Linked DNA regions of Homo sapiens: regions 1, 2 and 4 are each reported to be linked to region 3. The links are microRNA targets in miRTarBase. Many come from high-throughput screens and were not tested one by one. Region 3 holds a microRNA gene; each other region holds the end of a gene's coding sequence.

Evidence for each region. Region 3 holds the annotated microRNA hsa-miR-6732-5p (UAGGGGGUGGCAGGCUGGCC, at 5,502-5,521, shown strand). A microRNA usually pairs through its seed, bases 2 to 8, with sites in the 3' UTR of a target mRNA and lowers its output. Matches are read on the target gene's strand: a 7mer-m8 pairs with bases 2 to 8, a 7mer-A1 pairs with bases 2 to 7 and ends in A, and an 8mer does both.
Region 1: the mRNA of SBK1 is a reported target of hsa-miR-6732-5p. Seed matches in the 3' UTR shown: 7mer-m8 at 5,830-5,836, 7mer-A1 at 5,448-5,454 and 7mer-m8 at 4,807-4,813.
Region 2: the mRNA of GZMM is a reported target of hsa-miR-6732-5p. Seed matches in the 3' UTR shown: 7mer-m8 at 6,478-6,484.
Region 4: miRTarBase lists GET3 as a target of hsa-miR-6732-5p. Seed matches in the 3' UTR shown: 7mer-m8 at 6,426-6,432 and 7mer-A1 at 6,310-6,316.

Annotation. Positions count from the first base shown.
Region 1 is chr16:28,319,314-28,327,159 of GRCh38, reverse strand. SBK1 (SH3 domain binding kinase 1) reads right to left here. Exons shown (of 4, transcript NM_001024401.3): 4 at 3,311-7,084. The coding sequence ends at 6,239. Among named protein-coding and RNA genes, the nearest start is that of SBK1, 31 kb to the right of the region's middle.
Region 2 is chr19:548,448-556,293 of GRCh38, reverse strand. GZMM (granzyme M) reads right to left here. Exons shown (of 5, transcript NM_005317.4): 3 at 7,617-7,752; 4 at 7,109-7,372; 5 at 6,372-6,664. The coding sequence ends at 6,503. Among named protein-coding and RNA genes, the nearest start is that of GZMM, 8.3 kb to the right of the region's middle. RefSeq lists a cis regulatory region at 1-532.
Region 3 is chr1:37,474,734-37,482,458 of GRCh38, forward strand. It overlaps MIR6732 (microRNA 6732), which reads left to right and starts at 5,497; the gene lies at 5,497-5,556. ZC3H12A (zinc finger CCCH-type containing 12A) reads left to right here. Exons shown (of 6, transcript NM_025079.3): 2 at 726-1,206; 3 at 5,557-5,696; 4 at 6,868-7,102; 5 at 7,701-7,725. The coding sequence starts at 764. RefSeq lists a silencer at 1-41 and enhancers at 692-791, 2,502-2,801, 4,192-5,018, 4,642-5,181, 4,955-5,249 and 1 more.
Region 4 is chr19:12,747,590-12,754,589 of GRCh38, reverse strand. GET3 (guided entry of tail-anchored proteins factor 3, ATPase) reads right to left here. Exons shown (of 7, transcript NM_004317.4): 6 at 6,998-7,000; 7 at 6,267-6,617. The coding sequence ends at 6,486. It overlaps BEST2 (bestrophin 2), which reads right to left and starts at 2,799. Exons shown (of 10, transcript NM_017682.3): 1 at 2,751-2,799; 2 at 1,846-2,048; 3 at 1,236-1,330; 4 at 1-38. The coding sequence starts at 1,997.

The DNA of each region.
Region 1 (7,846 bases), not on the chromosome of region 3:
TTGCCCAAGTGAATTCAGCAGTGACATGAGTGAATGGCGGAGACAGAAGCCATGGCTGCCGAAAGCCTGGGCCCCCTAGTGGCAAGTCCCGCCACTCTGTGGCTAAGTGGGGGATCTGAAGAGGTGATGTTTGTCCACCAAGCTGGGGAACCAGTGATGCTCTTTTGCTTTGTAGATTTCTCCTCTATCCCCTAACAATCCATTAAAGTGGATGACACCCTTATCATGGCAGAGAAGCGGCAGACATTTTGAAATGACAGAGCTTTTCTTTAACATATACCAAATCAAATAGTTGGGTAGCAGTCCTTTCTGCCCCGGTAGGGCTTTTTGCTGTTCTTTTTGCCCTCCCTCTCTTTTTCTTTCTGCCCCCACCCCATCATTTCATATATAATTATGTAACTTATAGAATGTCTGTTTTGCTCTTTAGAACAGCAGTCACCATGCTTTTTGGCACCAGGGACTGGTTTTGTGGAAGACCATTTTTTCACGGACCAGGGGTGGGGTGGGGTGGGGTGAAGCGAAGATGGGGATGGAGGGATGGTTTCAGGATGATTCAAGCACGTTACATTTATTGCACACTGTATTTCTTTCTTTTTCTTTCTTTTTTTCTGAGATGGAGTTTCGCTCTTGTAGCCTAGGCCGGAGTGCAATGGCACGATCTTGGCTCACCGCAACCTCTGCCTCCTTGGGTTCAAGCAATTCTTCTGTCTCAGCCTCCTGAGTATCTGGGACTACAGGCTCATGCCACCATGCCTGGCTAATTTTTGTATTTTTAGTAGAGATAGGGTTTAGTAGAGGTGCCTGTAATCCCAGCTACTCGGGAGGCTGAGGCAGGAGAATGGTTTGAACCCGGAGGCGGAGGTTGCAGTGAGCCGAGATCGCACCACTGCACTCCAGCCCGGGTGACAGAGTGAGACTCCATCTCAAAAAAAAAAAAGACTGGGCACGGTGGTTCAAGCCTGTAATCCCAGCACTTTGGGAGGCTGAGGCGGGTGGATCACTTGAGGTCAGGAGTTCAAGACCAGCCTGGCCAACATGGTGAAACCTCATCTTTACTAAAAATACAAAAAAATTAGCCGGGCATTGTGGCATGTGCCTGTAATCCCAGCTACTCAGGAGGTTGAGGCAGGAGAATTGCTTGAACCTGGGAGGTGGAGGAGGTTGGAGGTTGCAGTAAGCCAAGATTGCGCCACTGTACTCTATCCTGGGCAACAGAGCAAGACTCCATCTCAAAAAAAAAAAAAAAAAAGAAAAAAAGAAAAGAAAGAAAAAGAAAAAAGGAAAAAAAGAGTATGTCTCAGGGTATGTGATAGGGATTGTGTGTCTTGTTTATTGCTGTTTCCTTGGCCCCGAAAATAGTAGCAGGCATGCATTCATTAGTCTGACAAGTTGTTACGGAGTTCCCATCACCGTACCAGGCCCTGTCCCAGGCGTGGGGGCTGGAGGGAAGTAGCAGTTTGCCAAACACTGCCTCTGCTCTTATGGAACTTCCATTCTAGGGGGGAGAGATGGGTAACAAACAAATACATGGTCCTGCAGGTGGTGACGAGTGCTCAGTGTGCAGTGAAGCAGGCTAAGGAGGGCTTCTCTCCACCTAGACGGCTCAGGAAGTTTGCTCTGACCCTGAAGGAAGGGCGGGAGGGATCCCTGGGAGAGTACAAGGCAAAGTTTAAGGCTTCCAGGTGAGCACATGCTTGGCAGGCAGTACAGGGGATGGTAGGGATGAGGCTGGAATGTGCTGGGCTTGAAACTTGACCTTGACATAGGCTCTAGGCCTCTTGTGACCTCTCAGAGCTCGTGGGACCTTGGAGACCACTCTAAGGACTTCAGCTTTGATTTTTGGGTGGAATAGGAAGCCATTGTAGGGTTCTGAACATAGTGACAGATCTTATCAAAAGGATCTGTCTGGCCGGGCATAGTGGCTCATACCTGTAGTTCTAGCACTTTGGGAGGCCAAAGCAGGAGGATCACTTGAGTCCAGGAGTTGGAGATCAGCCTGGGCAACATAGTGAGACCCTGTCTCTACAAAAAGTAACAATAAAAATAAAATAGCCCAGAGCAATGGCATGTGCCTGTAGTCCTAGCTACTTGGGAAGCTGAGGTGGGAGGACTGTTTGAGCCCAGGAGATCGAGGCTGCAAGTAAGCTATGATTATGTCATTGTACTCCAGCCTGGCCAACAGAGCGAGACCCCAACTCTTGGGAAAAAAAAAAAAAAAGAAGAACCTGCAGAGGCTCAGAAGAGGCTCCTGCCTTAGGCCAGGGAGGGAGGCCATGTCCAGGGGCAGCAATGCAGGCAATGGGCAGTTGCTGCCTTGGGATGTGCCTGTATTTGAAGGCAGAGCCAACAGAACTGCTCTGTTGACATGAGTAGGTAATTAGCAAATATTTGTTTGAATGAGTGTTGAATCATGAAACTCCCTACAGTCCACTGAAGCTCCCCCTCCTTCAGAACATCCGCCTTGACTGTTGCTGGAGTCTACACCCACAACCGGCCCTTTCAGCTTTCTCCTGTCCCCTGCTCTGGCCCCATCGTCAGGGAGCGTCTGTGGGCTCCTCCAAACTCGATGGGTCTCCCAGTTCCATGCTCTCACTGAGCTCAGCCTGCTGTTTGGGCAATGTCTGCCTTCATCATTAGATCACCAGCTGCCTAAGGGCAGGGGCCCTGTCTGTCCTGCTCAGTGCTGTGTCCCCAGCCCCTAGGAGGAATCCTGGTACACAAAAGGTGCTCAGTAAAAAGGTGCTGAGTGGTGAACTGGTCTGCCTCTGGGCTTTTGCTTCTTTTCTGGCCAGGCTGAAGGGCTACAAGCTGAACTCCAGGCAAGGGACAACTGCCTACCCCTTGTCCCAGAATCTGGGTCCTGTTCCCCTCATGCTCAAGTTCTGAGAGGTCACAGGAGGCCTAGAGCCTATGTCAAGGTCAAGTTTTCTTTTTTTTTTTGAGATGGAACTTTGCTCTTGTTGTCCAGGCTGGAGTACAATGGCGCGATCTCAGCTCACTACAACCTCCACCTACCGGGTTCAAGCGATTCTTCTGCCTCAGCCTCCCAAGTAGCTGGGAGTACAGGCGTGCGCCATCGCGCCCAGCTAATTTTATATTTTTAGTAGAGATGGGGGTTTCACCATGTTGGCCAGGCTAGTCTTGAACTCCTGACCTCAGGTGATCCGCCCGCCTCGGCCTCCCAAAGTGCTGGGATTATAGATGTGAGCCGCTCCGCCCAGCCCAAGTTTTCAGTTTCTAGAGTACCTGTGTGCCCCCACCCCCACCGCCCTCTCCACCCCAAACTTGAGAAAAGACAGCCACCCAGTGGTCATTTTTCTAAACTTTTGTTTATTTTTATAGCAATCGTCATGTTTAGAGAAGTAAATAACACATTTAAAAACCTTCTCAGGGCCAAAGGATGCCAGAGTATTTACAAACACATGGAGGAAGGGCGGCAAGACATGAGGGGCTGGGGCTCTGGGGCTAGGACTCTACCCAGGACCCCGCCCCAGGCCCTGAGCCAAGCATGGACGCTGATGTCAGCCACCAGGACTGTCCCACTGGCCACAGTGTGGGCTCAGGGAACATTCTGGCAGCCGTGGGGTTCTGTTCAGTGGGCCTGGTGGAGACCCTCTAGCCGACCTGTGGCCCCGCCTCCCATCCAGGGGGCTTCCCGTGCCCCACAGGCCAGCTCAGAGGGGTCTCTGGGAAGCACCGAAGGACAGGGGGCAGTGTGGGGGACACAGGGTCTGGGACAGAGACACGCACACACATACACACATACACACATACACACTGTACCTTCACAGAAGAATCGCAACAAGGGAGATTTTTTGTGTGATTTTTTTTTTTTTGTCTTCTAAGTCTTCATGTCTACAGTGTTATTTTTTGCTATTATTTTTTGTTTCTTCGACAGTGACATAAACTGAGGTAAACATCTGTGACCAACACCTCTCCTAAGGGGCAAAGGGTCCCAGCCCGACCAGCAGAGGAGGTGGCAGCACCAGGGCCCCAACCTGGTGTTCCGGTTCTGCTCTGGGGTCAGGCTGGAGGCTGGCCCTCTGGGTGCCTCTGGGAATGAGGGGGCTGGGCTACATAACTATGGTCCCCTCCCAACTCTAACATACTAGATACTACAACGGCTGGGGAAACTCCCGAACAGGATCTTAACAGAGAGAGGGAGAGAGAGAAAGAGAGGAGAGAGAGAGAGAGAGAGAGAGAGAGAGAGAGAGAGAGAGAGAGAGAGGGAGAGAGAGAGCGCGCGCGAGAGAGAGAGCGAGCACGGCAAGGGACGTCTACTGTGGAATCTCGATTCCTAGTTATTGCAGGAGAGATCAGGATGTCGCGAGGCCTAAGGCAAAAGGAGAAGTCGCGGCTGGGAGAGGCAGCCCCGATGGGCTCCAGGTGGGCCGGGGGCAGTGACCAGGGCCTTCTCTGAGACCTGGTCCTTGGAGGGAGTGGGGGTTTGCTACTTACCTGGCATGTGGAGGGCCCATACCCACTGGGGAGGTGGAGTCTGGAGAGGAGTGGGCACAGCAGGGAGAGTGGGGCCAGGCCCTGGGGCCACCCCACACTGTTTGTAAACTGGACCCGGGCAGGGCAGGGGACCTATAGCCCTTTTTCAAGGTGGGAATGAGTGGGGAGTGGAGAGGTTGGGGCACCAGCCAGAAAGTGCTCGGAGTTCACTCTGGCCGGCCTGGCCCATCAAAGAGCCCCTCAAATGGCCCAGAACCCCAGGAGGGACCCTGGCAGGGGACCCTGACAGGGACAGCCTCACCCATGTGGTGCTTATTGCGGGGGTCCCGGGCCTCCACAGAGAGGGGCAGGGGGTCAGGCGGGGCTGCTGTTGTCTCTGTTTTGCTACCTGGGGGCCTGAACCAACCTGCAGGGGCCTCCTTGCCGGATTTCCTGAGGGCTGTGGTGCAAGGCAGGCCTGGGCGCCCTGGGACAGCTGCCTGGGAGGACCAGGGTGTGGTGGGGGGGCCGCTGGTGAGGGGTCTGGACGCACAGTCACTGAACGCAAAGGATGGCACCCATGCGTCTGCACCCTACACATGTGCACACACACCTAGTCACACACTCGCCCCCTGGTGTCCACCGCCCCCATTCTCACACCCACACATGCAGGTCCTACGCCCTGCACACTCCAGCGCCAGAAAAGTGGGAGACGTGAGGATGGGGTCTTGGAGGTTGGCATGTTTGACCCCAAGAAACCCAGGAGAAATTTCCAGCACGAACCAGCTCGCCACCTGCTGGAAGCCCAGGCTACTACGTCTAGGCTGTGTGGCAAGGGCTGGGAGGACCCGGCAGAGGTCCCTGGGCCTGGGACAGTGCGGCTGGCAGGGGGAGCTGGGACCTGCTCTCGGCTCCACACTAACTCCCCTGCCCTAAGGATGGGGGCAGCTGAGACCCCTGCCCTGTGAGCCCTTCTATCCCCACAAGTTGTCAGGACAATCCCTTGTGGTTAGGGGGAGGGGCGGGGAGAGAGCTCTATTTCTCAGCCAGTGCCAAGCTACCCTCCCTCCTGGGCTGTGATTTCATTTGTGCAATGGGGGTGTGCAGGAGTCACTAGCTTCTCGGGGCCTGTCCCGCACATACACGCACTTATGCGACATCCAGACATTTGCTACATTTTCCAAGGGCTTGGCCTCTCCCCTCCAGCCTCCAGAAGGGAGGGCAGGACACAGCTGCCCTTCGCTCACTGCCCTGATCCCAGCCTGTGCCCAGGGGCCTTAAGCCCCCTCTCTGCCCAACACTTCAGTCCCTTTCTGTACCCAGGGTGGGGAGGGGGCAGAATGGGATGGCGAGGAGGAGGGGATCTGGGGTGGGACCGCAGGATGATCTGCCAGGGGGTATGGAAGGCCAGGAGCAACGAGTCCGGGTTCCAGGGCTCAGGGAGGCGTCTGGGAGTGTGGCCCGAAAGCTCCCTTGCTCCTGGCGTGTGTGTGTGTGTGTGTGTGTGTGTGTGTGTGTGTGTGTGTGTGTGTGTGTGTGTTGTGTGGTGGCCTCCGAATTCTCGGGTCTGTGCGGCTTGGCTCCTCTGGGCCAAGCCCCCGCTCACCAGGCCGCGCTAGGGGTCTTTGGTGGCCCCCTCACCAGCCCGCCGGGGACGGACCAGGTGCCGGGCCGCGTCCTGCCTAGTCTACCGCTGCGCCCCCTGCCCCGCGGCGAGGTGGCTCCATTCCCTACCGCCGCACCGGGCACCGGCTCGGGGCGGGCCCGGGCTGCTCCCGGGTCCGAGGGCGGCGGAGGCGACTCAGACGCAGATCTCGATGGCCGTGGCCAGCACCACCTGCCCTTTGCTCTTGTCCGCGCGGCCGTCGGTCCGGCCGGGGGGCCCCTGGGGAGCTAGGCCGGGCTCGGGCACAGGCACCGGCACGGGCACTGGCACCGGCACCGGCACGGGCAAGGGCACCGACCCGACGGCGGGGGGCGCGGGCCGGGAGCCGCTGCCGCTCTCGGTCAGCACCGTCCGCTTGAGCGGCCCAGGCGCCTCGAGGCGCAGTGGCCCGGCGGCGGGCGGGCGGTCCCCGGGGGGCTTGCGCGCGCGGTGCGAGGGCCGGCGGCGCAGCTCGGACGTGAGCTCGTGCTTGAGGAAGCGGAACACCTCCTTGGCTGGGCCGCGGCGCTCGGGCTCCAGGGCCAGTAAGCGCTGGAACATGCGCAGCGCGGGCTCGGTGAAGCGGCGCCACTGCGAAGGCAGCCCCGGCAGGCGGCCCCGCTGCCAGCGCACGAACTCCTCGAAGAAGGCGTCGGCGCCCGACGCCGCCTCCCACGGGAAGTTGCCGGTGAGCACGCAGAAGATGAGCACGCCGAAGGCCCACACGTCCACGCCCGTGTCCACCGCCAGCCCGTCGGCGCGGCCCGCCTGGCACACCTCAGGCGCCGTGTAAGGGATGGTGCCGCTCACGCGCTTGACGCGGCAGCCCACGCGGCGCGTCATGCCGAAGTCGGCCAGCTTTACGCGGCGGCACTCGCGGTCGAACAGCAGCACGTTCTCGGGCTTGATGTCGCGGTGCACCAGCTGCCGCCCGTGCATGAAGTCCAGCGCCAGGCCCAGCTGCTGCACACAGCGCTTCACCGTGTCCTCAGGGAGCCCCACCTGCGGGCGGCCGGGGGAAGCCGCGCTGTTTCCAGCTCTCCAGCGCCCGCCCCGCCGCCCTCCCCTCCAGCTCCCTCTCTAGCAAGGCGGTTTTCGCCTCCCACCCTGTCCCCAGTAACTGGGGCGACCGCGCAGACGCGGCCCGGATGCTGCTGAGCGCCCTTTCCCCCGCTGTCTCATCCAATCCTCATAGTGGCTACCATGCCTGCTTCTCCTATGGGGACATCGGGGCTCCAGGAGGGACACGCGGCTCTCCAGGAGGTTGATGAGGGGGTCCGCGGCGCCCTCCACCTGCTGTCATTTTGCCCTGCCTGCTAGATACTTATCTCGTCGGTCTTCCCCAACTAGAACGGGGCTCCCTGAGCTTCCCGTCCTGTTCCCTGCTGTGTCCGTGCATCTGTGTCTCCAGATTCTGGCATGTAGTAGGTGCTCAGCAAAGAAGGAGGACCTGCTCCGAAGGTCTCATCACTCAGCCAGCAAGTGGCAGAGCAGATTTAAAGCTAGTGCCTGGAACCCTCCCCCACCGTCCCGGTTCCAGGGTCGCTTCCTCTGAGGGCCCCTTCCCAGGTGGATCTGACACCTCTCCTCTTGTGTAGCCCCAGGGGAGGGCCCAGTGACTTCATCCCATCATTCTCACTGTCTCCTTTTAGGCACTCATCTCCATCTGTTATTATCTGGCCCGCTGTGGAGTGTCAGTTTCCCACTAGAACAGGGACTTTTGTCTTCCTTACTGCACATCCCCACCTCCCCAAATGGTAACTG
Region 2 (7,846 bases), not on the chromosome of region 3:
CGGAGGGGTGGAGGCTTCCAGGGCACTGCGTGTCCCACACAGGGTGTCAGCCTCCTGCTGGTGGCTGGTTCTGTGTCTCTAAGTCCCCAGTCACTCACCGGGGCTGGGGTGGGGACATCTCAGCACAGCAGGAGGGAACCACTGATGAGGCACGTCCGGGCTCAGAGATTAGCTCTCTCCCCGGGGCGTGGCTCCAGCTCACCAAACACCAGCCTGGCCTGGCCTCCACTGATCTCTGTCCAGTTGGAGTCACCCCAGGACCCAGTGGGTGGGGTGGGTGGGGTGGGGCGGTGCCCTGTGACCTCTGGAGGAGGCTGGAGAGGAAGCTCAACCCTTGCCTCTGAGCATTTTTTTGTTTGTTTTTTTGAGATGGAGTTTTTTGCTCTTGTCGCCCAGGCTGGAGTGCAGTGGCGCAATCTTGGCTCACTGCAACCTCCGCCTCCCGGGTTCAAGCGATTCTCCTGCCTCAGCCTCCCCAGTAGCTGGGATTACAGGCATGCGCCACCACGCCCGGCTAACATTGTATTTTTAGTAGAGACGGGGTTTCTCTGTGTTGGCCAGGCTGATCTGGAACTCCCGACCTCAGGTGATCCGCCCGCCTCGGCCTCCCAAAATGCTGGGATGACAGGTGTGAGCCACCATGCACGGCCGCCTCTGAGCATTTCTGACGGGTCCACCCCACTGGGCTGGATGCTTCCTCCTTCCTAGCCTCCCTGCCTCTACATCAGGGTCTCCCTTGAGGATGTCAAGGAATAAGGAAAATCGCAGCTTCCGCTGGGTACGGTGGCTTACACCTGTCATCCCAGCACTTTGGGAGGCCGAAGCGGGTGGATCACCTGAGGTCAGGAGTTCGAGACCAGCCTGACCAACATGGTGAAACCCCATCTCTACTGAAAATACAAAAATTAGCCGGGCGTGGTGGTGGGTGCCTGTAATCTCACCTACTCGGGAGGCTGAGGCAGGAGAATCACTTGAACCCGGGAGGAGGAGGTTGCAGTGAGCCGAGATTGCGCCACTGCACTCCAGCCTGGAAACAGAGACTCCGTCTCAAAAAAAAAAGCAAACAACAACAACAAAAAAAAAAAAAACAAAAAAAAAAACACCACAGCTTCTTTTAAGCACGTGCAGGGGCCGTGTGACTGTGGGACGTGACAAGGAGCTTCTGTCCAAGTTTCCGTGCGGGAAAGAAACACAAACGTCTGCGAAGTTCACAGCAGCCCAGGTCACGGCAGCCAAAGGTGGAAACAGCTCACCCATCCCTCGAGGGCAGTGAGTGGACAGAGGCAACGTGGTCCAGCCGTACCACGGAAGGACACCCCACCCCAAAATAACAGCACCAGGACGTGCCACCCCAAAGTGTACTTGTCCTGCGTCGTTCGAGCTGGTGACTCCCAGAAACCGCAGGCTCAGGACTAGCTCTGGACAAGTGCTCTTTTGTAAAATAAGTTCACGTCCACGAAGGACATCCACGCTGGCAACACACCTGCACCAGGAAGAGGGAGAGGGCTGCCCCGGGCAGCTTTCATTGCCAAGAGGCCTGGCTTTCTTTTTATCTTTTCTTTATTTGTTTTTATTTTTAATTTTAATTTTTTTGTATTTTTAGTAGAGACGGGGTTTCACCATGTTGGCCAGGCTGGTCTCGAACTCCTGGGCTCAAGTGATCTACCAGCCTTGGCCTCCAAAAGTGCTGGGATTACAGGCGTGAGCCACCGTGCCTGGCCTTTTTATCCTTTTTTTTTTTTAAAAAAAAATGAACACATGCCGGGCGCGGTGGCTCACGCCTGTAATCCCAGCACCTTGGGAGGCTGAGGCGGGCGGATCACGACATCAGGAGCTTGAGACCAGCGTGGCCAACATGGCGAAACCCCGTCTCTACTAAAAATACAAACAGTAGCCGGGCGTGGTGGCGGGTGCCTGTAATCCCAGCTACTCGGGAGGCTGAGGCAGGGGAATCGCTTGAATCTGGGAGGCGGAGGTTGCGGTGAGCCGAGATCGTGCCACTGCACTCCAACCTGGGCAACAAGAGCAAAATACTCTGTCTCAAAAAAAAAAAGAACACATAATAATTGTACATATTCATGGGGTACATAGTGACGTTTCAATACATACAATGTGTGCTGATCAGACATTAACATAGCTAGAGTTGCAAACATTTATCATTTTTTAAAAAATTTTTTATTTATGGTTTTTTTGTTTTTTTTTTTCTGAGACGGAGTCTCGCTCTTGTCGCCCAGGCTAGAGTGCAGTGGTGTGATCTCAGCTCCCTGCAACCTCCCTTTCCCGGCTTGAAGTGATTCTCCTGCCTCAGCCTCCCAAGTAGCTGGGATTATAGGTGCCCACCACCATGCCCAGCTAATTTTTTTTGTAATTTTCGTAGAGACAGGGTTTCACCATGTTGGCCAGGCCGATCTTGAACTCCTGACCTCGTGATCCGCCCGCCTCAGCCTCCCGATGTGCTGGGATTACCGGCGCGAGCCACCATGCCTGGCCATGAATGAACAATTTAAAAACCCAAAGGGGCTGGGCGTGGTGCCTCACCCCTGTCATCCCAGTACTTTGGGAGACCAAGGCTGGCGGATCATGAGGTCAGGAGTTCAAGACCAGCCTGGCCAATCTGGTGAAACCCCGTCTCTACTAAAAATACAAAAATTAGCCGGGCGTGGTGGCGCGTGCCTATAGTCCCAGCTACTCGGGAGGTTGAGGCAGGAGGATTGCTTGAACCCAGGAGGCGGAGGTTGCAGTGAGCCGAGATTGCACCACTGCACTCCAGCCTGGGCGACAGAGCGAGACTCCGTGTCAAAACAAAAACAAAAACAAAAAACAAAAAAAGAACCCAAACAGGCAGGGCCCATCTCTGGGGTTAGAGACTGGACTTGGGGCGGGGCGCAGTGGCTCATGCCTGTAATCCCAGCACTTTGGGAGGCCGAGGTGGGTGGATCACGAGGTCAGGAGATCGAGACCATCCTGGCTAACACCGTGAAACCCCGTCTCTACTAAAAATATTTAAAAAATTAGCCAGGCGTGGTGGCGGGCGCCTGTAGTCCCAGCTACTGGGGAGGCTGAGGCAGGAGAATGGCGTGAACCCAGGAGGTGGAGCTTGCAGTGAGCCGAGATTGCACCACTGCACTCCAGCCTGGGGGACAGAGCGAGACTCGAATCTCAAAAAAAAAAAAAAGAGACTGGACTTGGGTACTTGGCTAAGGAGGGGCTTCGGGGCAGGGGGTTGTGTCTGGACCCAGGTGCCGGGAACAGGGGCGTGCCTGGTTTGTGAGTTATGAGGCTCTTCACTTGTGACCTGAGAACCTTCCACTGCCAATGATGCCATAAAAAGTTAAAGATTAGGCCGGGCGCGGTGGCTCACACCTGTAATCCTTTAGGAGGCTGAGGTGGGAGGATTGCTGGAGCCCAGGAGTCTCTAAAAAAATAACATAAAAAAATTAAAAAAGTTAAAGATTAAAAATGCACTTGCCTCTCCCAAAAACACTGTGACTCCAGTCCAATCGAGAGAAAAACATGAGATAGCTGGCGGGTGCAGTGGTCCACACCCGTAATCTACATAAATCCCGTCCAGCCGGCCTCCAGACACGGAGTTCTGAGAAACGGTCGGAGCCTGGGGGTGCCGAGGAGAGGCTGCGGCGAAACGGCAGGTTCGGTCCCGGGTGGGACCCTGTGCAGGAAGAGACATTAGGGGAAACTGAGGAAATCCGAGCCAAGAGTAGGTCCTTAGTAGTTAATCACGCATTCATGTGAGTTCGTCAGCCGTGACTCCTGCTGACTGGAGAGGGGAGCGGCCAGGAGCCTGGGGGCGGGGACGCGGGGGACCCTGTGGATACAGCCGCCACACATCTCCTGCAGACCAAAAATGGTTTTAAAAATTAAGTCTATTACAACACTAACCCGGCCGGGCACAGTGGCTCATACCTGTAATCCCAGCACTTTGGGAAGCCGAGGCGGGTGGATTATTTGAGGTCAGGAGTTCGAGACCAGCCTGACCAATATGGTGAAACCCCGTCTCTAGTAAAAATCCAAAAAAATTAGCTGGGCTTGGTGGTGGACCCCTATGATTCCAGCTACTTGGGAGGCTGAGGCTGCACTCCAGCCTGGGCAACAGAGTGGGAACTGTCTAAAAATAAAATAAAATAATAAAAAACCATTAACGTGGGCACAGTGGCTCATGCCTGTAATCCCAGCACTTTGGGAGGGCGAGGTGGGCGGGTCACCTGAGGTCAGGAGTTCAAGACCAGCCTGGTCAACGTGGTGAAACCTGTGTTTCTATTAGTCTCTACTAAAAATACAAAAAAAGTTAGCTGGGCGTGGTGGTGCACGTCTGTGATCCCTCAGCTACTCAGGTGGCTGAGACACAAGCATCGCTTGAACCTGAGATGGCTTGCAGTGAGCCGAGATCGTGCCACTGCACTCCAGCCCGGGTGACGCACTGAGACTCCATCAGAAGAAAAGAAAGGAAAATAAAAGAAAAAAAGAAAAGAAAAGAAAGAAAGAAAGAAAGAAAGAGAGGAGGGGAGGAGAGGGGAGGGGAGGAGAGGGGAGGGGAGGGGAAGGGGAGACGGGGAAGAAAGGAAAGAAAGGAAAGAAAGAAAGAGAGAGGAGGGGAGGGGAGGGGAGAGAAGGGGAAGGGAGGGAAAGAGAAGAAGGGGAAGGGAGGGAAAGAGAAGAAGGGGAAGAAAGGGAAGAAAGAAAAGAAAAGAAAGAAAGAGTTGGTAGTGAAATTAAAAGATTCTGCAGGAAAACAGCGCGGCGCTGAAACAGAGTCACTGAACAGCCCGAGATGCCACTCCCACGGGTCTAATCTGGAGGGAGGAAGGAGCAGGTAGGTCCACACGAAAACGCACACAGGCGGCTCCCAGCAAAGCTTCAGACGGACGGACGCAGACGAAGCCGCCCAGATGTGCACCCAGGGACGCACCCACAAACGCAGCGAGGCCCCCCTCGAGCTGGAGCTCGACCCCCCGGAGCAGGAGCACGGCTCGGACCCAGCCAGCGCGCGGGTGCAGCTTGAGGACGTCACGCTCAGCGGGAGACGCCAGACACAGAAGGCCACGCAGCGTGATCCCCTGTCCATGAAATGTCAGCACAGGCCCATCCAGAGACAGGGAGGGGATGTGAGGGCACCGGGGCTGGGGTGGGGACGGGGAGTGACGGCCGATGGGGACGAGCCTCCTTTTGGGGTGCTGGGGTGACAGTGGGGACAGAGTCTATTTTCGGGGTGCTGGAATGACAATGGGGGTGGGGCTTCCTTTTGGGGTGCTGGGGTGATAGAGATGGGGCCTGTTTTCGGGCTGCTGGGGTGACAGTGGGGACAGGCCTGTTTTCGGGCTGCTGGGATGACAGTGGGGACGGGCCTGTTTTCGGGGTGCTGGGGTGACAGTGGGGACAGGGCTGTTTTCGGGGTGCTGGGGTGACAGTGGGGACAGGCCTGTTTTCGGGGTGCTGGGGTGACAGGGGGACAGGCCTGTTTTCGGGGTGCTGGGGTGACAGGCCTGTTTTCGGGGTGCTGGGGTGACAGTGGGGACGGGCCTGTTTTCGGGGTGCTGGGGTGACAGTGGGGACAGGCCTGTTTTCGGGGTGCTGGGGTGACAGTGGGGACAGGGCTGTTTTCGGGGTGCTGGGGTGACAGGACTGTTTTCAGGGTGCTGGGGTGACAGGGGACAGGCCTGTTTTCGGGGTGCTGGGGTGACTGGGGACGGGCCTGTTTTCGGGGTGCTGGGGTGACTGGGGACGGGCCTGTTTTCGGGGTGCTGGGGTGACTGGGGACGGGCCTGTTTTCGGGGTGCTGGGGTGACTGGGGACGGGCCTGTTTTCGGGGTGCTGGGGTGACATGTCACGGTGGTGGTTGCCCAGCTCTGTGCAGGTACCAAAGGCCCCTGAATCGCAGTTTACAGGGAGACTCATCTGCTATGTGAGTTGTAACTTGATAAAAGCTGTTACTAAAAAAGAAGATCCTGGGATGCTGTTCAAGGCCCAGCCCCAGGAGCCACGCGGGGAGGACGGCCGCCCACCCCTGCCAGCCTGCAGACCCGGCCACCGCTCCAGTCCTGGCCAACGCCGCCCCCTCCTGGGAGAAGCCTTGGGATCCACAACCTCCCTTTTTAAAACAGGGAAGGGCCGGGCGCGGTGGCTCACGCCTGTAATCCCAGCACTTTGGGAGGCCGAGGTGGGCAGATCACAAGGTCAAGAGTTGGAGACCAGCCTGACAAACATGGAGAAACCCCTTCTCTACTAAAAATACCAAAAGTTAGCCTGGCGTGGTGGCGGGCGCCTGTAGACCCAGTTACTCGGGAGGCTGAGGGAAACAGGTTTGTCGGAAGCCCCACAGCCAGCATGGACAGAGGTGGGCTGGGACTCAGGCGGGCTCTGAGCGTTTCTTCATTATGATTTATTGGTCCCTCCCTGTCCCTCCCACCCGTCCTCACCCACCCCACTGCACCCCTGGAGGGGAAGGGTCCTGTGGAGACAGCGAGGGGGTCCCCATCACCCCAGGGCATCAGGCCGATCGGCCGGTGACCTTCCTGATCCAGGACACGTAAGGCGCCACAGCGGTGGCCACGGGAGGCTTGAAGATGTCAGTGCAGACCCTGGAGCTGAAGGACAGGACTCTGGCCAACACCCGGCCTTTGCCACACACCAGGGGCCCGCCCGAGTCACCCTGCAGGGACGACACACCGCAGCTCAGCCTCTGCACCTGCTGAGGGGACGAGGGGAGCAGGGCCCGCCGAGGGGAGCAGGGCCAGGCCTGTTATCCCCAGGCTCAAGGAGACACAGGGGCTGCTCCCGGCCCACGCGTGTCCCCTCCCCATCTCCCGCTGGCCCTGTGAACCCTGCTCCTTCTTCCCCCGCCGGACCGTCTTGGCTGGAGCAGAAGTCACAGCTCTGCCGCTTCCCGGCTGTGTGGTCTTGCGCAGGTTGCTAAACCTGTCTGAGCCTCAGTTTCTGCACCTGAGAAACGGGACCCCTGCCAGTGCTTCCCCGCCCCCCAGCCCCTGACAGGACTCCCCAGAGAACGGGAGAGCCAGGAACCTGCCCGGCGGCTGCCCTGGCCCCGGCCCTCCCGCCAGCCTCATTCCCCCAGCCCCACCCGGGCGCCCCTCACCTTGCAGGGAGCCTGGTCCTTGGAGTCGGCCGCCAGGCAGACCATGCTGGGGGAGAGGCTGCCGTTCCAGAAGCGGCTGTTGTTACACATGCGGGTGTCCAGCACTTGGAGGTCCAGCTCCCGCAGCACCCGGGACAGGCGCCCGCCCTGGTGGGTCAGCCCCCAGCCGGCCATGCTGCACCGAGTCCCTGCTGCCACCACCTGGCGCTTACTGGGCAGGGCCAACGGCCGGATGGTCCGGCTGGGCTTCACTTTCCCGTCCAGCTACGAGTGACAGGAAGGGGCAGGTGAGCAGGGGGAGGGGGTGAGAGTGCGGGGGCGGGGGGCGGCAGCGGGGGGAGGGGTGGCAGTGGGGGGAGGGTGGGCAATGGGGGAGGGGGCAGTAGTGCGGGGGGAGGGGCAGCAGTGCGGGGGGAGGGTCGGCAGCGGGGGGAGGGCGCAGTGGGGGTGAGGGGCACCCGTGGGGGACAGGAGGGTGCCCAGTTCTCCCTGTCCCGTCCCTGCACACCTGAAGCAGCGCGAGGTCGTTCTCCAGGGCAGGGACGGGCTTGTAGCGAGGGTGCTGGATGGCTGCCTTGATGTGGAAGGTGAGACCGGGGCTGTCCAGGGTGTGGAGCCCCAGCACCAGCCTCAGCTGGGCCATCCTGGGGACAGAGGGAATCAGGGTGCTGCGGCCTGGCCCGGCGTGGACGACCCGCCACATGCAGTCCCGGCCCCCACTGTGCCCGTTGTCCATGG
Region 3 (7,725 bases):
GGGTGGAGAGGGGAGGGGACGGAAGGGTCGGGGTCCTGTTCCCCGGCCCGCCGGGCCTCAGGACCCCTCCAACTTTGCCCAAGTTGGGAGAGCCGGGGAAGAGCACCAGGTTCCTGATCGGGATCGCGGGCCGAGCAAGCGCGGGTCTCGGGCCGGGACAGCCTCGGCGTCACCAGCTCCCGGCAGCCAACCAAAGTTTTCCAGCAACTTTTCTCCCCACGGGTCACCCCAGAAACTTGCCCTCCCCGGCTCCGGGAGTCCGGCCATGGGCCTTGCGCTGCCTGGGCCTGAGCTCTGAGTGCCGGACGGGTGGGCGAAAGTGGTGGCCTCAGTGGGGAAGCCTTGGGCCCCGCAACGCACTTCCAGCCCCAGGATTCCATCTGAGAGCCCCGTCCCTGCCTTCTGGGTCCCCTGGGTTGGCGTGGGGGTTCGAGGCTTTACAGCTGGGGTAGTTCCAGTCTTAGTTCAGACTAAGTTCCGATCTTCGAGCCACCAGCTAACAGCTGGATGACCTTGAGCACGTTTTTAATGTCTGTGCCTCAGTTTCTCCCTTTATAGAATGGGAATGGGAATGCCTAGCTGGGAGAGCTTTTGAGAGGACAACCTGAACTAATAACACGATGCAGTGTGTAGTGCCACCAATCCCTCATCCTGCTGGATGTGGTTTTGGGAGGGAGGTTAGGAGAGAGCGCTATTCACCGTCCCTAACCCTGTTGGTTGTTCAGTAGGAGCTGTGGCGCGGGGCCTTCCAGGAGTCTGAGCTATGAGTGGCCCCTGTGGAGAGAAGCCTGTCCTGGAAGCCAGCCCCACCATGAGTCTGTGGGAATTTGAGGACAGCCACAGCCGTCAGGGCACCCCAAGGCCGGGTCAAGAGCTGGCCGCTGAGGAGGCCTCGGCCCTGGAACTGCAGATGAAGGTGGACTTCTTCCGGAAGCTGGGCTATTCATCCACGGAGATCCACAGCGTCCTGCAGAAGCTGGGCGTCCAGGCAGACACCAACACGGTGCTGGGTGAGCTGGTGAAACACGGGACAGCCACCGAGCGGGAGCGCCAGACCTCACCGGACCCCTGCCCTCAGCTCCCTCTAGTCCCGCGGGGTGGTGGCACCCCTAAGGCTCCCAACCTGGAGCCTCCACTCCCAGAAGAGGAAAAGGAGGGCAGCGACCTGAGACCAGTGGTCATCGATGGGAGCAACGTGGCCATGAGGTAAGTGTCACTTCTGTGGCCAGGACACATGAGGTTCGCATCTCTCCTGTGGCCAGGACACATGGAAGGATGACTGTCTCTGCAGCTCTGGTGGGCTGGAAGAAGTGACTTCCTTCTTAGGGACTGGTCTAGAGGGAGGGAAAGCCTTTTATGAGGCTAGGGTCGCGCTACTGGTAAGTGACAGAGGCAGGGTTCCAGCCCAGGTCCCTCTGTCCGCAGAGCTTACCTTATGCTGTGGGTCCCTCCCTGAGGCCAGCACTGTGTCTCCACTCCTCTCCTGTAATGTGAGGCAGGGCTGTAAAGGGGACCAGCCCGTGGGCAGCTGCTCACTCACCCCTCGGAACCTGATCTCAGGTGGGTGTTGTGAGGAGGGAGTGTGCGGATCCCGGAGAGGAGCAAGCGTTCAGGAACCATAGTAGTGGTAGTAGGCAGTGGTAGTAGCAGTTGTTGTTGTTATTTCAGGGGCTGGGCTTCTGAGGCCTTCTTGTCTCAGACCTGGGCTCCCACGAAAACAGGTCCAGTGACTGTGTCCAAGAGTGACCTCAAGGCTGGGTCCAGCTTTACATGGGTTGTGGGCAGGTGGCCTGATGCTCTGGCCTCAGGCGAGCTGCAACTTGGATCCCTACTGACTCAGCTGAAGCAGCCTGGGCTGGACCAGTCTCTGGAGGTTCCCCGGGGCCAGAGCCAGGACTCAGCCCCCAGTGACTCCCACCCCCATCCCCCAGCACAGGAATGGGGTGGGGAGGTAGGGGCAGAGAGGGAAGCCAGGGCTGCTGCTGACCTTGGGAAACCCAGACTTCTCCCGTCAATCCAGGCTCCACCCTCTGGCCCCACTTTTTTCCCAGTTCCCTCCAAGGCAGGCTGATGAGTCAGTGCTGGGTGGATGGCTCACAGGGAAAAGTTCCTGTTGGCATGGACGGGGAGACCCCAGACACAGGGTTGAGAAGGGATGATTTTCTGGCTGCCCTGAGGGAGCTCCTAGGTGGGCTGCCCAAGGCTGGCATGACATCAGCCTCTGCCCTCCCTAATTTGTGGCCCCTGTGGGACAAGTTCACTGTCCAGCTGGCCCTGGCCCAGCTCAGCAGGCATGCAGCTGAGTGCTCTTCCCTCCTTCTGTCACCTTCAGGCCAGTCTTCCTCTCTCTGACTTGGGCTGAGCCTGGATGGGAGGCTGAGAAAATCCAGTTTCCATGCCAAGAGGCAGCAGGTCACAGCCCATGCTTCGAGATTAGAAGGGGTCCCTCTCAGTGTCCAGCCTCATGTAGCTGGGCTAGGAGCTAGGTTGGATCTGTGTGACTCCTTCCTCTGGAGGTATGGGCCAGGAGCGGCTGAGCCCTGGGAGCAGCCATATGCAGTATGTGTTTGTATCCAGAAGGAGGAGGGACATGGGAGGAGGGGCTGTGATGAGGGGTGCTCAGAGGAGCCTGCTCCTGAGAAGCAGAGCCACGCACCCACCTCGGGGGTTTCTGAGCTGGGGTAGTGGCAGGAGGGGAATTCCAGCCTCAAACTTCCTGTCTCAGCTGCTACTCGGTTCCTGCCCGGCCACCCCCCCTCCCCAGGGGCAGGCGGGCTAGCCCCCCCATCATATGCAAATCATGGGGAAATTCACCTCTGTTTCCTTCTAAGGGAATTTTTTTCCACTCGCCAGGCCCAGCCCAGGCATATCTTTTCACCTGGGGAGGCTGGCCCAGCCCTGCCTTCTGTCCTGGGGCAGGAGCAGCCTAGCTGGAGTCTTCTACACACACATCCTATCAGTGTCTGCTTAGCCCGGCTGGGGGACCCTGACCTTACAGGCAAAGAGAACTGGAATGGGGGCAGGGATGTCTGGTTTTCCTGTGCCAGCAGCGCTTCCTCCAGTGCAGTGAAAGAGACTAAAGCTAGCTGTAGGGGGGCACTCCAGGCCTCATGTGCTCTACCAGGAGGAGGGCTCTGATAGCGCCCACTGATCAGTTTTTCCATCTGCTGAGGGAATATTCAGGTGCTAGGGCTGCTGAGAACCGACTTGTCCCAGCCAAGATTTTCAGTGCCCACAGGCAGTGCACTGCCCTGAGAGCCCTGGCATCCCATTAGTTCCCAGTGCTCCAAGATACTAGCCTAGGATCATGTGCCCGGAGGGAGGCAGGTGGGCGGATACATGCGCACACTGCATACCTGAGACAAGGAGCCAGGCCTGGGATGACCCAGCTGCCATGGTTTTGAGAGGCAGGCCAGAAGGCCCAAGGAAGGGGGGTGATGTGATGGGGGAAGCACTGGGCATTGTGAAGACACAGACCAGGGACCTGACCTATTGTGGCAGGTCAGGGAAGGCTTCTCAGAGGCAGTGACATCTCACAAGGGTTCTGAAGGAAGAGCAGGAGTTTGCCAGCAGCATTGTTTCTCCCGTTCGCCACCTGTCTCTCATAACACACTTTGTTCAAACTCAATTTTGGGAGCTTTGTTCTCCCAAATAAATTCTGGATCTTCTGTTAGAGACAGGAAGGCAACCGAGTGGCCCAGACCTGGGTTCGAGTTCTGACTGTCTCTTACCACTAGCCAGGTGACCTTCCTTTCCTTCACGGTAGCAAGCCCTATAAGAATGAAGCCATATATCTGGCCACCAGCGGGAGCTCAGTGCCTGCGAATCCCTGCTCATTCCCTGCGATCAGGGTCTGTGCCTGCCTTCGTACCTGCCTGAGCATTGACGTACAGGGTAGTGATAAGCATAGGCCCTGGGCTTGCGTCTCTCTTCCACCGTTAACTGCTGTGTGACCCTGGTGACTAAGCTGCCTTCTCTGGACCACAGTTTTCATCTGAAAAACAGGGAAGGAGTTGATGATGGTATAGTGCCCTCCTCACAAGCTTGCTGATGATTCAGTGTTAGACACTTATAACAGGGCCTGGTTCACAGCTCTCAGCAAATGGGAACTTTTATTATAAGCAGGCTGGCAGATGTGGCAGAGGGACCGGGAAGGATGAGTGCTGCCCTGGGCTGGACTTTGTCTCCCCTACAATTTAGAGACCTTCAGACCCTGGTGCCCCAGTCTTGCCCCCAAATAGCCTCCATGGCCCCCAGCTGCCCCACCTCCCTCCCTAGCTTCTCTTAGGGCTCCAGCTATCACCCCTTACCTCCCCCACTCCCATTAAAGACACCCACAGGATGTGGTTGGCCCTGGACTTGCCTCTTTTGCGTAACATTTATTCTGTTTTATTTGCCAAATACGAGAGTCTAAGCTGTTCACTGAGGGGGCAGTGAGACGTGGGGCTGCTGGTCCTAGGAGCTCTTCCATGACACCTAGTGTTACCTGGGAGCCCCAAGCCCCAGTCCCCCATCCCTCAGGAAATCCAGTTGGAACCCCTACTTTGCAGGGCCATCTTTGGCCTGAAGCCACCAGGAAAGCTGTCCCACTGACTGACCCCTCTTAAGGAAGCTGCAGACTGCTGGGCCCATTTTCAGATAGAGGAACGGAGAGCTGCGGCAGCCCAGGAGCCCTGCCAGGCTTCCTTCTGGGTGCAGCCACCTGTGGGTGGGGCGCGGCCTCGTCTGAGACCAAGGCAGGGCCCATGCCTTACTCAGCTGTCCTTGCTAAGAGTCCCCTAGCATCTTCCTGATGGTCTTTCTGCCTTGGGGTGAAGAGGCATTTGGGGGAATTGCCATCTTGGGAGGAAAAGCAGTATCCTTTCACTTTCAGACTGAAAGGCTCCTGGGGAACTTGCTTCACTCCGGCGCTTTCTGTCCCATGCTGAAGGCTGGAGTCGCCAGCCCCTTCCCCTTTGCCTTTCTCAGGCCCCAGTCCCTGAGGTGTGTGTGAGGACTGAACTTTAATCCGGAACAATCTGGTTTCTCCTCGGTCAGCCCAGCCGGTGCTTCCCCCGCCCCCACCCACGCTGCAAGAGGCGAGGGAGGGGTGGTGACTCAGTGTGCATGTGTACATCTGTCCCTGTGGTCCCGGCAGCTCGCCGGGTGGGGCAGGAACCAGAAGTCTCGCGGCACCTTTCCCCCACCCCCAGGTGTGTTGCAAGTGGCCTGGCCCTCCCCCACCGTGGGGAGCAGTGCTGCCAGCTTCCTGGGCGCTTCCTCACTTTCAGGAGATGGAGCCTCAGGGAAAGTCCCAGCGGGGCCTGGCCATCCTGGAGCTGTGGGAACTGGCACTGGGAATGGAGGCCTTGGCCTTGGGCCCCACCTGCAGAGGGCCAGGGCCTGAGCCCTGGGGAAAGGGGAAGGGGCTGGTGACTCCAAAGGGGAAGGGACTGCTCACTACCACCACCAAAGCCAGGGCAGGGGTGGGGTGTGACCACCTCCCTCCTCCTGCTCAGGCCTAGGGGGTGGCAGGCTGGCCATCAGTGTGGGCTAACCCTGTCCTCTCCCTCCCAGCCATGGGAACAAGGAGGTCTTCTCCTGCCGGGGCATCCTGCTGGCAGTGAACTGGTTTCTGGAGCGGGGCCACACAGACATCACAGTGTTTGTGCCATCCTGGAGGAAGGAGCAGCCTCGGCCCGACGTGCCCATCACAGGTGAGTGGTGCCTCTGGAGGTGGGATGGTCTTACTGCCCCAGCAGCCCTGGTTCTCCCCAAGAGAGACCCTCTGGGAGTGACCTACAACTTCTAGAACTCAAGCAGGGACCAGCATTTCTTTTCTCAGTTTTTTCTGTCCTTAGCAACCTGCTCTGAATGGTGGTCATTGGAGGTCACCTTGTCCAGTCTTCTGCCTCAGATCTGGAGCCCCTCCCTCATCCTACTGGTGGGCAGGTCGCTCTTTCAACATCCCCAGTGGCAGAAGCGCAGTATCACATAGTGGTTAAGCCTGTGGGCTCTGAGTCGAGACAGCCAGAGTTGGAATCCTGGCTCTGTCCCCTCTTGGCGCCCTGGCCTGGACAGGGACCCCTCTTAGCCCTGCTCTGAGCCACATGCTCCTCATCTGAAACATGGGGTCGGTGTCAGCAGGGGGTGTTGACAGCATTGCCTTCCTCGTGAGGTCATATAAGTTAACACACGGTAAGTGCTGAGAAGAGTACCTGGCACATGGTAGATGCTCAGTGTATGTTAGCTGTTACCACTGTTCTTGCAAGAGCCCCCAGCCTTTGGAGGTAAAAACTGAATCAGTTTCTCTAGAAGTCTTGAGATCTGGGGGCAGCCTGTCTGGGACTGTAGGCTCCAGGAAGAGGGGCCCTTTCCACTTGCACACTTCTGTGTCCCTGTGGTCCCAGCAGCTCCCCAGGTGGGGCATGGTGAGTGGCCTGACCTTTTCCCACCATGGGATTTAGCGACCTTGTCCTGGCAATGCAAGGGACAGAGCCAAGATACTTCTCCCACCCCAGAGCAAGCTGCGGCTCATTCACGGACCCCTCAGAACAGGCTGGATGAAAGCCAAAGCCAAGACCACATCTGGCTTGAACAGGCCTGATGTCCAGAAGGAGAAAAGGAACAAGGCCAGCTCTGTGCTTGGAGCCTCTGCCATGCAGGCCCTGCCGCCTGTGTTCAGATGTTCTTGGTCTTCAGGCAGCAAACTGTGCCACGCCAAGGGAGGGGCTGGGGCATGGAAGAGGCCTCAGCAGAGTTAGTTCTTGCCCCGGTGACCTTGGCGTTAACCACTCCTGTGTGTGGCCATCAGCAGGTTAGGGAGCCCTGTAGGCCTGGCTCTAGGTCCCGCTGGGCCCTGACCTGTGTGCACCCGTCACCTCCCAGACCAGCACATCCTGCGGGAACTGGAGAAGAAGAAGATCCTGGTGTTCACACCATCACGACGCGTGGGTGGCAAGCGGGTGGTGTGCTATGACGACAGATTCATTGTGAAGCTGGCCTACGAGTCTGACGGGATCGTGGTTTCCAACGACACATACCGTGACCTCCAAGGCGAGCGGCAGGAGTGGAAGCGCTTCATCGAGGAGCGGCTGCTCATGTACTCCTTCGTCAATGACAAGTATGTTCCCTCCCAGAGGCCCTGACAGACTTGGGGTCCACAGGGGAAGCCAGAGGTGCCCTTGGCAAGGGTGGAGCTGGGGGCTGGGCTCTGCGGGGCCCTGTGGCCATGGGAGGTTGCGGGTCTTGGCTCCAGGCAGCTTTGAGAGTGAGACGGATAGCTCACCACATAGGAGAAATCAGACCGGGACCAGGCAGGCTGTGGGGTGGAGAGAGTGGCTAATTTGGGAGATAGAGCCGTAGCACTTATGAGGGGATGTATGTGGTTGATGGTTCCAGGTGGCCTCTCTACGAACCAACATGGCATCTCTCGAGCAGAGGCCATGGGCCAGTGGGTGCGGGCTGCCATCCCCCGACGACCTCAGAGAGGGAGTTCCCCTAAAGGTGCCCATGGGCTGTGGCCCTCTAGACCGGGGATCCCTTTCTCCTCCCTTGGTATGATCCCACCCATAGAGCAGTTTTGCGGGGTCCTGGACAGGCCCCAGTTTTAGGTGTCACTCTCCTATTCTTCCCAGCAAGGCTTGCCATCGGCCCCTTCTCAGCAATTAGAAGTCCCTGCATGGCTCCCACCTCCAGAGAGTTCTTTGCACCCTCTGCAGGTTTATGCCCCCTGATGACCCACTG
Region 4 (7,000 bases), not on the chromosome of region 3:
GCTCCACCAGCGGTTCACCACCAGCGTCACATAAAAGCCTGCAGGGGAGCGGGGAATGGGGGCTCAGTGGGGACACCAGGGCCAGGGGTTTGGGGGCCCAGGTTGTGGGAGAGGGGGCAACGTAAGGTCTGCATCAGGGAAACCCGAGCGTGCTGGCCAACCTGACCACGTTTGGGCTGGGAACTTGGGGGTCCAGCCCTGAGGTCAGAAAGGACAGTTGCCGGGCGCGGTGGCTCACGCCTGTAATCCCAGCTCCTTGGGAGGCTGAGGAGGGTGGATCATGAGGTCAGGAGTTTGAGACCAGCCTGACCAGCATGGTGAAACTCCGTCTCTACTAAAAATACAAAAATTAGCCGGGCATGGTGGCGCACCTGTAGTCTCAGCTATTCAGGAGGCTGAGGCAGAAGAATCACTTGAACCCGGGAGGCGGAGGTTGCAGTGAGCTGAGATCGCACCATTGCACTCCAGCTTGGGCAACAGAGCGAGACTCCATCTCAAAAAAAAAAAAAAAAAAAAAAAAAAAAAAAGGCAGAGCAGCCCTTTGGGTCACTGGCTACTTGGGAGTCACCTCAGATGTGACATTGGGATCCCAGTATGGGGATAGAGGCACAGAGCCCATGTTAGGGGCACGTGGGCAGACTGTTGCTTGCTGTGAAGGCATAGGGACCTAAAACAAGGGGAGAGGGGCCTGGTTTGTGGGGGTGTACATCAGAGACATCTGGTCAGGCTTGTCACAGTAGCCACACCCGGCCCCTGAGCCAGGAACTTCTGAAGGGGTTGGGGACAGGGTCTACATCAGGGAGCCTTGGGCAGGCTAGGGTCACTTGTGGTCACTAGGGGTCCAAGACTTGTCAGAGAAATGCCCCCAGGCTGGAATTGAGAGGATGGAGTCCTATGGGGTCCCTGGAGGGTTAGGGGTTTGTCCCCCCTAATAACACAACAGACACTGGTGAGAATCCCCAGGGTGACCAGGAATAAGTCCTGTGTGTGAGATGGAGCTCTCCTGGGGGCACCTCAGGGGGCACTGTGACCCCAGGTGACACCCCAGGTCTCAGAGTGTAGAGCCACATCTGGCATCTTCATGATATGGATCCAAAAATGGGTGGGCAGTGCTGTCGGGGTTGGATTTGAGGGGGGGGATCTCAGAGGGGCAGGAATGGGGGCTCCTCAAAAGGCATGAATGGATATGGGTTTCTCAGGGACATGGGAACGGGGGACTTGGGGTTGGACCGCACCAAGCACGAAGGAGACAGGGATGAGGCTGGCATACTGGTCACAATAAATCACAAGCTTCTCGAAGTAGCGCTTCTGCCCTTCGGTCAGCACAAAGCTGCGGGATAGAGATGAGGGGTCACAGGTCACAAGGGTGACTCCATCCCCAGCTTCAGATCTCTCTTGCTGTGCCCCTCACCCTGGCTTCTTTTATAATAGCTGCCCCCAGCCGGGTGCTATGGGTCACACCTGTAATCCCAGCACTTTGGGAGGCCGAGGCAGGAGGATCACTTGAGGTCAGAAGTTTGAGACCAGCCTGGTCAACACGGTGAAACCCCATCTCTACTAAAAATACAAAAAAATTAGCCAGGCATGGTGGCTGGCACCCATAATCCCAGCTACTCGGGAGGCTGAGGCAGGAGAATCGCTTGAACCCGGGAGGCAGAGGTGGAAGTAAGAGAAGATTATGCCACTGCACTCCAGCCTGGGTGACAGAGTGAGACTCCATCTCAGTTTAAAAAACATAGATATATATACTTATATATCTCTATATTTTTATAATTTTTATATATTATATATATATAATAGCTGCCCCCCCTCCGCTAGAACATGAGCACCTCAGGGCAGCCTCACCGGTAGGCAGCACTCAGCGCCATGTAGAACCCAAGGAAGCAGAGCAGCTCTCGCCACAGGAGTTTGTAGATGCTCCCACGCCACAGTAGCAGCAGCTGGGAGAAGCCACCGAAGCGGGCGTTCGCCACTCGGGCTGTGTAGGTGACGGTCATCGTGGCACCCGGCAGGTGTGGCCAAGGGAGAGTGGGTGGCCCGGGTGGGGGCTGCGGGTGTGGGTGGAGAGGTGCGGGGATAACTGAGCACAGGGATTCCACCCATGTTCCGGCCCGCCACCCCTTCAGTCCTGACCCTTGCCTGAGTTGCCTTCTCCTCCCAGCTTTACTCAGTCTAGTCCAGCCCCCAGTGCCCCTCCCTGACCTTCATCTCAGGCTGTCCCCTTCCCTGGACTCCTGGCCGTGGGCTCTGGTAACTGCCGTCCCCCACCACCAAGACCCTTGAGTCCCTGCAGTCAGCTCCCGAGTCACCCTCTGCCCGATCCCCTTCACCCAGAGGCCACCTGTAGCATGCCCCATTCCGCAAGTCCCCAGCACCTGAGTTTCTAGGTTCTCAAGGCTCCACCTCTCCCAAATTCTCTCCCTCAGCCCCTATTTCTGGCTCCCCCTTCTCCACTTCCCCAGCTCCCAGTCTTGACCCATTCTGCTCCCTGCACTCCCTCTGAAGCCCTGTCCCTAAGCCTCCAGGTCCCCTAGCCCCCCTGCCCCAGCCTGTGCACCTTCTGCTTAATTGCCCTGGCTCCCCCCACTCCCTTTTCCTCCCGGATCCGCCTTGACCTTTCCTCTCTCCGTTCCCCTCCAGCCTTCCAAGCCCTCCACTCCCCGCCCCGGGAGGACTCCGGATGCATTCCTGCCCGCAGGTTCCCTCTTCCCTCAGGGCCCCCTATTTCCCCAAGCCTGGGCTCATCTCACCTGTGTTGAAGGTGGCCGGTGCAAGGACCCACAGGGACAGGGATGGAATGGGCGGGTGGCTTTGGCGTTGGGTGGGGCTGGGGAGTGGGCGTGCCTCCCTTTCCTGGTCCTCCTCCCTCGGCTAGGCTGTAGCTTCAGAATTTTGTTTGGAGTCCCACAAGTTTGTTACCTGGTACGGGGGGAGAAATCCGCCTTGTCCTCCCTCGCCCCTCCCTGTTCCCCTCCCAGTCGCTCACTGGCAGGTCCTAGGGATCTGGAACCCAGAGGTTGGGGGAGGAGGCAGGGATGGTCTTTTTCCCAGTCCCAGAAACACACACACTGCTCAGTGAGGCTGGGTCACTTCACAGTCACCTGTAATCACACAGTGTCACAGAGATGCACGCAGAAACACACATCATAGTCCCAGAAGCAAATCTAGCTGCTCTTAAGACAGCCTCAGCCAGGCACGATGGCTCACACTTGTAATTTTAGCACTTTGGGAGGCTTAGGTGGGAGGATCACTTGAGCCAGGAGTTCGAGACCAGCCTGGGCAACATAGGGAGATCCCCATCTCTATTGAAAAAACAAAAAGACAGCCTCACATAACTATGGTTACCCAGAGGAGCAGTACACACTGTCACAGAACCTTCCAGGGTCACACAAGACACACCTACCTCGACCCCTCCTGCCTCCATCACGCATATATAAGGCAGGTGGACCCTGACATACTAGGCTCTCCTCTTTCATACACACGGCTCTCCCAACGGTCTGAATTCCGTCATGATCACGCCATGTAACAAAGACACCCACACAACCAGCCAAGTGCCAGACCCCACCCAGACCTCAGAATGCCTTCACACACACAGTCATACTCCACTGCAAGGAGGTTTTACTCCCGATCTTCCCTGTGCAAAGATGCAGCCATGATCACACACCAAATGCAAAAACCCTTTCCTCAGTGCGGTGGCACACAATCCCAGGCTCAGAGCGGGGCCTGAGGTTCACCAATCTTGCAAAGACACACACAACAGCCACCCCTCCCTCAAGGGTCCCCTAGCTATCACCGCTGGTGAAATTCACCAGCATTTGTACACCAATATGTGAAGGCAACCCCCTTTCCAACGCTCCCTCCCGGCGGCAGGCCCACACCCACACCCACAGGTCTCAGATACTCTCAGCATTGCCATGAACACACAAGCTTGGGGACACAAAACCTTGTCCTGCATTTGGCATGGATTCTGGGCAGATGTTCATTCTTCACAGACACACCTCTAAAGGGGACACTCCCAGCCTGGTACAAACAGTACCCACTCCCCCTCCATTGCCCAGCCTGAAGAACATTAACACACAGATTGGTGTGGGAGGGGCAGAAGTTCAGGGGTCAAACCCTGGGATGGGCATCCTAGAGTGCTCAGGAGCCCCTCGTGCATTCTACATAGCCCCGCCCGAGGTTCCAAGCCCAGCAGGCTGGGACGCCGTGTTCCCAGACTGGCAGATGTTCACCCTGCCCGGAGTAATTAGGAACCCGCCTGGGCTGGTCACCCTGTGACCCATGCCTTCGCTGTCCAGCTGCCGGACAGCCCATAAATGGGGGCGAGGGGGCAGCTGGGGCGGTGCCGTCAGCTGCGGAACCTGGCAAGGCGGTGGCAGGCTCGGTGCTGATGAGCTCAGTTCTCGATCAGCAGCCCTCACTCCCTAGGAAGTGTCCTTGCATTCACTGAAGCCCGCTCCTCCTTTTCATCCTCCCTACCCCAGCTCACCCGCATCCCCACACACTTCCGACTGCTGAATTCCCGCAGGGGCTGGGGGCAGGCTTCCTGGGCTATTTGATATGCTTACTAATTGTGACAACGAAAAATAACAAACATTTCTTGCGGTTTCCTGTCTGGTGCTGGTATAAACGCCTTGCGTGTTTCATCTCATGGAATCCTTACGGGCATGCTAAGTTGGTCATCTTACTATCTAAGTAGGGAAACTGAGGCTCCGATGTCACATCTCATCTTGTTCGTAGCACAGCTGGGATTTGGATCCTGGCAGTTTGGCGCGGAGCCGGCTGTACCATCGTGTTTGTTTACACATGCCACCCCAACAGGCCCACACCTGCTTGTGCACACCCCAGGGAGTTGGAGTGACAAGTCTAGGCTCCTGGTGGGGTTCCCCTTACACACACACCCTGGCACACCCAGACTCTGGGTCTGAACACTTTTTTTTTGAGACGGAGTCTCACTTTATTGCCCAGGCTGGAGTGCAATGGCGCAATCTCGGCTCAGTGCAACCTCTGCCTCCCAGGTTCAAGTGATTCTCCTGCCTCAGCCTCGCAAGTAGCTGGGATTATAGGTGGGCACCACCACGCCTGACTAATTTTTGTCTTTTTAGTAGAGAGTAGTTGGAGGCTGGCCTCCAACTCCTGACCTCGTGATCCACCTGCCTCGGCCTCCCAAAGTGCTGGGATTACACGCGTGAGCCACCATGACTGGACCTGAACACCACTTTTGTTTTTTGAGACAGGGTCTTACCCTGTCTTGGCTCACTGCAACCTCTGCCTCCGGGGTTCAAGCGATTCTCCCACCTAAGCCTCTGGAGCAGCTGGGACTACAAGCACCCCAACACCATGCCCGACTAATTTTTGTATTTTAAGTAGAGACGAGGTTTCGCCATGTTGGCCAGGCTGGTCTTGAACTCCTGGCCTCAAGTGATCCACCCACCTCGGCCTCCCAAAGTGCTGGGATTACAGGTGTGAGCCACCGCGCCCGGCCTGAACACCGACTCACGTGTGTCCTCAGGAACCCCCTTTCTGTCCCCCCTAGCCAGCTCTGGCTTGGAACTTGTAAACTCTCAAGGTCATACCCCATCCTGAGTCTCCCAAGTGGGGACAACAATAGCAGCCCAGGCAGTGGCAGAGGGAGGAGCGAAGGGCAGGGGATAAGGGGGTCCACTAGGTGCCTTCCAGGCCTGTGTGCCCACAGCCTGAGACCGCTCTGGAGTCAGGATGAGACTTCAGGAGCCCCTCCAGCCGGAGTCCTCTGTCACCCTGCCCACTAACCAGCCCCCTTGCTGCAGCCCTTTGCTGGGAGGGGCTGATGCCATCCCATGGGGGCAGGAATTGGGGGGTGGAGACTGTTAATCCCCAGTCTGGCAGGCCTGGCCTCTCCCCAGGGCGCCCACTAATTCCCAAACCAAACAGCAGGCAGTGCCGGGCCCACTGCCGGCCTAATCTGCTCTGCTCCCCACCAGCCTGGGGCTGGCCAAGGGGCCTCCCAGTTCCCACGCTCTGAGCCTCCAAGGAAGTGGGAAAATGCCTCTGTCTTCCATTCCAGGCTTCACAGGCCCAACAGGGACACCTTAACCCACACAGAATGAGACAAAGGTATCTCTCACCCAAGACACCCTCCTTCCAAAGTTGCCACAATAAACATGCATCTCTATTAGGTCTCTGTTGTGAATGGGCCCCTCTAGATGTGACACTTCTGTCCAGTGCACAACCTGTGCAACTGTACATAAAGGTGCTTACCCTCACCTCCCAATGTCAACAATACAGCAGTTTAAGATCATTTTATTGAAGAGCAAGAGGTGGGAGAGGTAGGGGGCAACTACAGCTCCCCACCAGCCCCACCAGGGGGAATGGACCCCTCCCTGCCTCCTGCCCAAGTGGCTCCCCCTGTATTATGGGGGGGACTTTGTGCAAACTCTGCCCCGAGGGGGTGGGGAGGGTGGAGGGTGAGTGTGAAATGGCAGCGGTTGGGGCTGGCAGCTGTGCTACTGGGCACTGGGGGGCTTGTAGGGCTCCAGGAGGAGGGCCGAGAAGGTGTTGACCTTGTCTGCCCCCCGCACCTCATGGGGTAACAGCGGCAGCTTCACGATGTGGAAGTCTTCATACAGGTCCTCCATCTGCAGCCAGGGCAGAGGGTAGAAGGCAGTGGTCAGGGGGCAGGAAGGCAGAGACAGAGTGTGGATCAATAGAAGCGGTAAAGCTAGAAAGCTTCCAGAGTCAGGGAGAGAATATAGGGCAGGAGCTTAAGGTGTCATAAGTGGGAGCTGCATCACTATGGTCAGAGATCACTGGGCTAGACCCCCTGCTCTCCAGGGTCACAGGGACCTAGGCCAGGCCAGCCACAGTCCTCTATGGCCGGAATAAGGGTGAAGGATCTGAAATGTGGGGGCAAAGGGCAGGAGGCTAGAGGGCAGAGGGCCAGATGGTGGAGCAAAAGATCAGAGAATAAAGGGGCAGAGGTGCCTCTGCTGAGCCAGTGCTGGGTGGGTGGGCACACCTG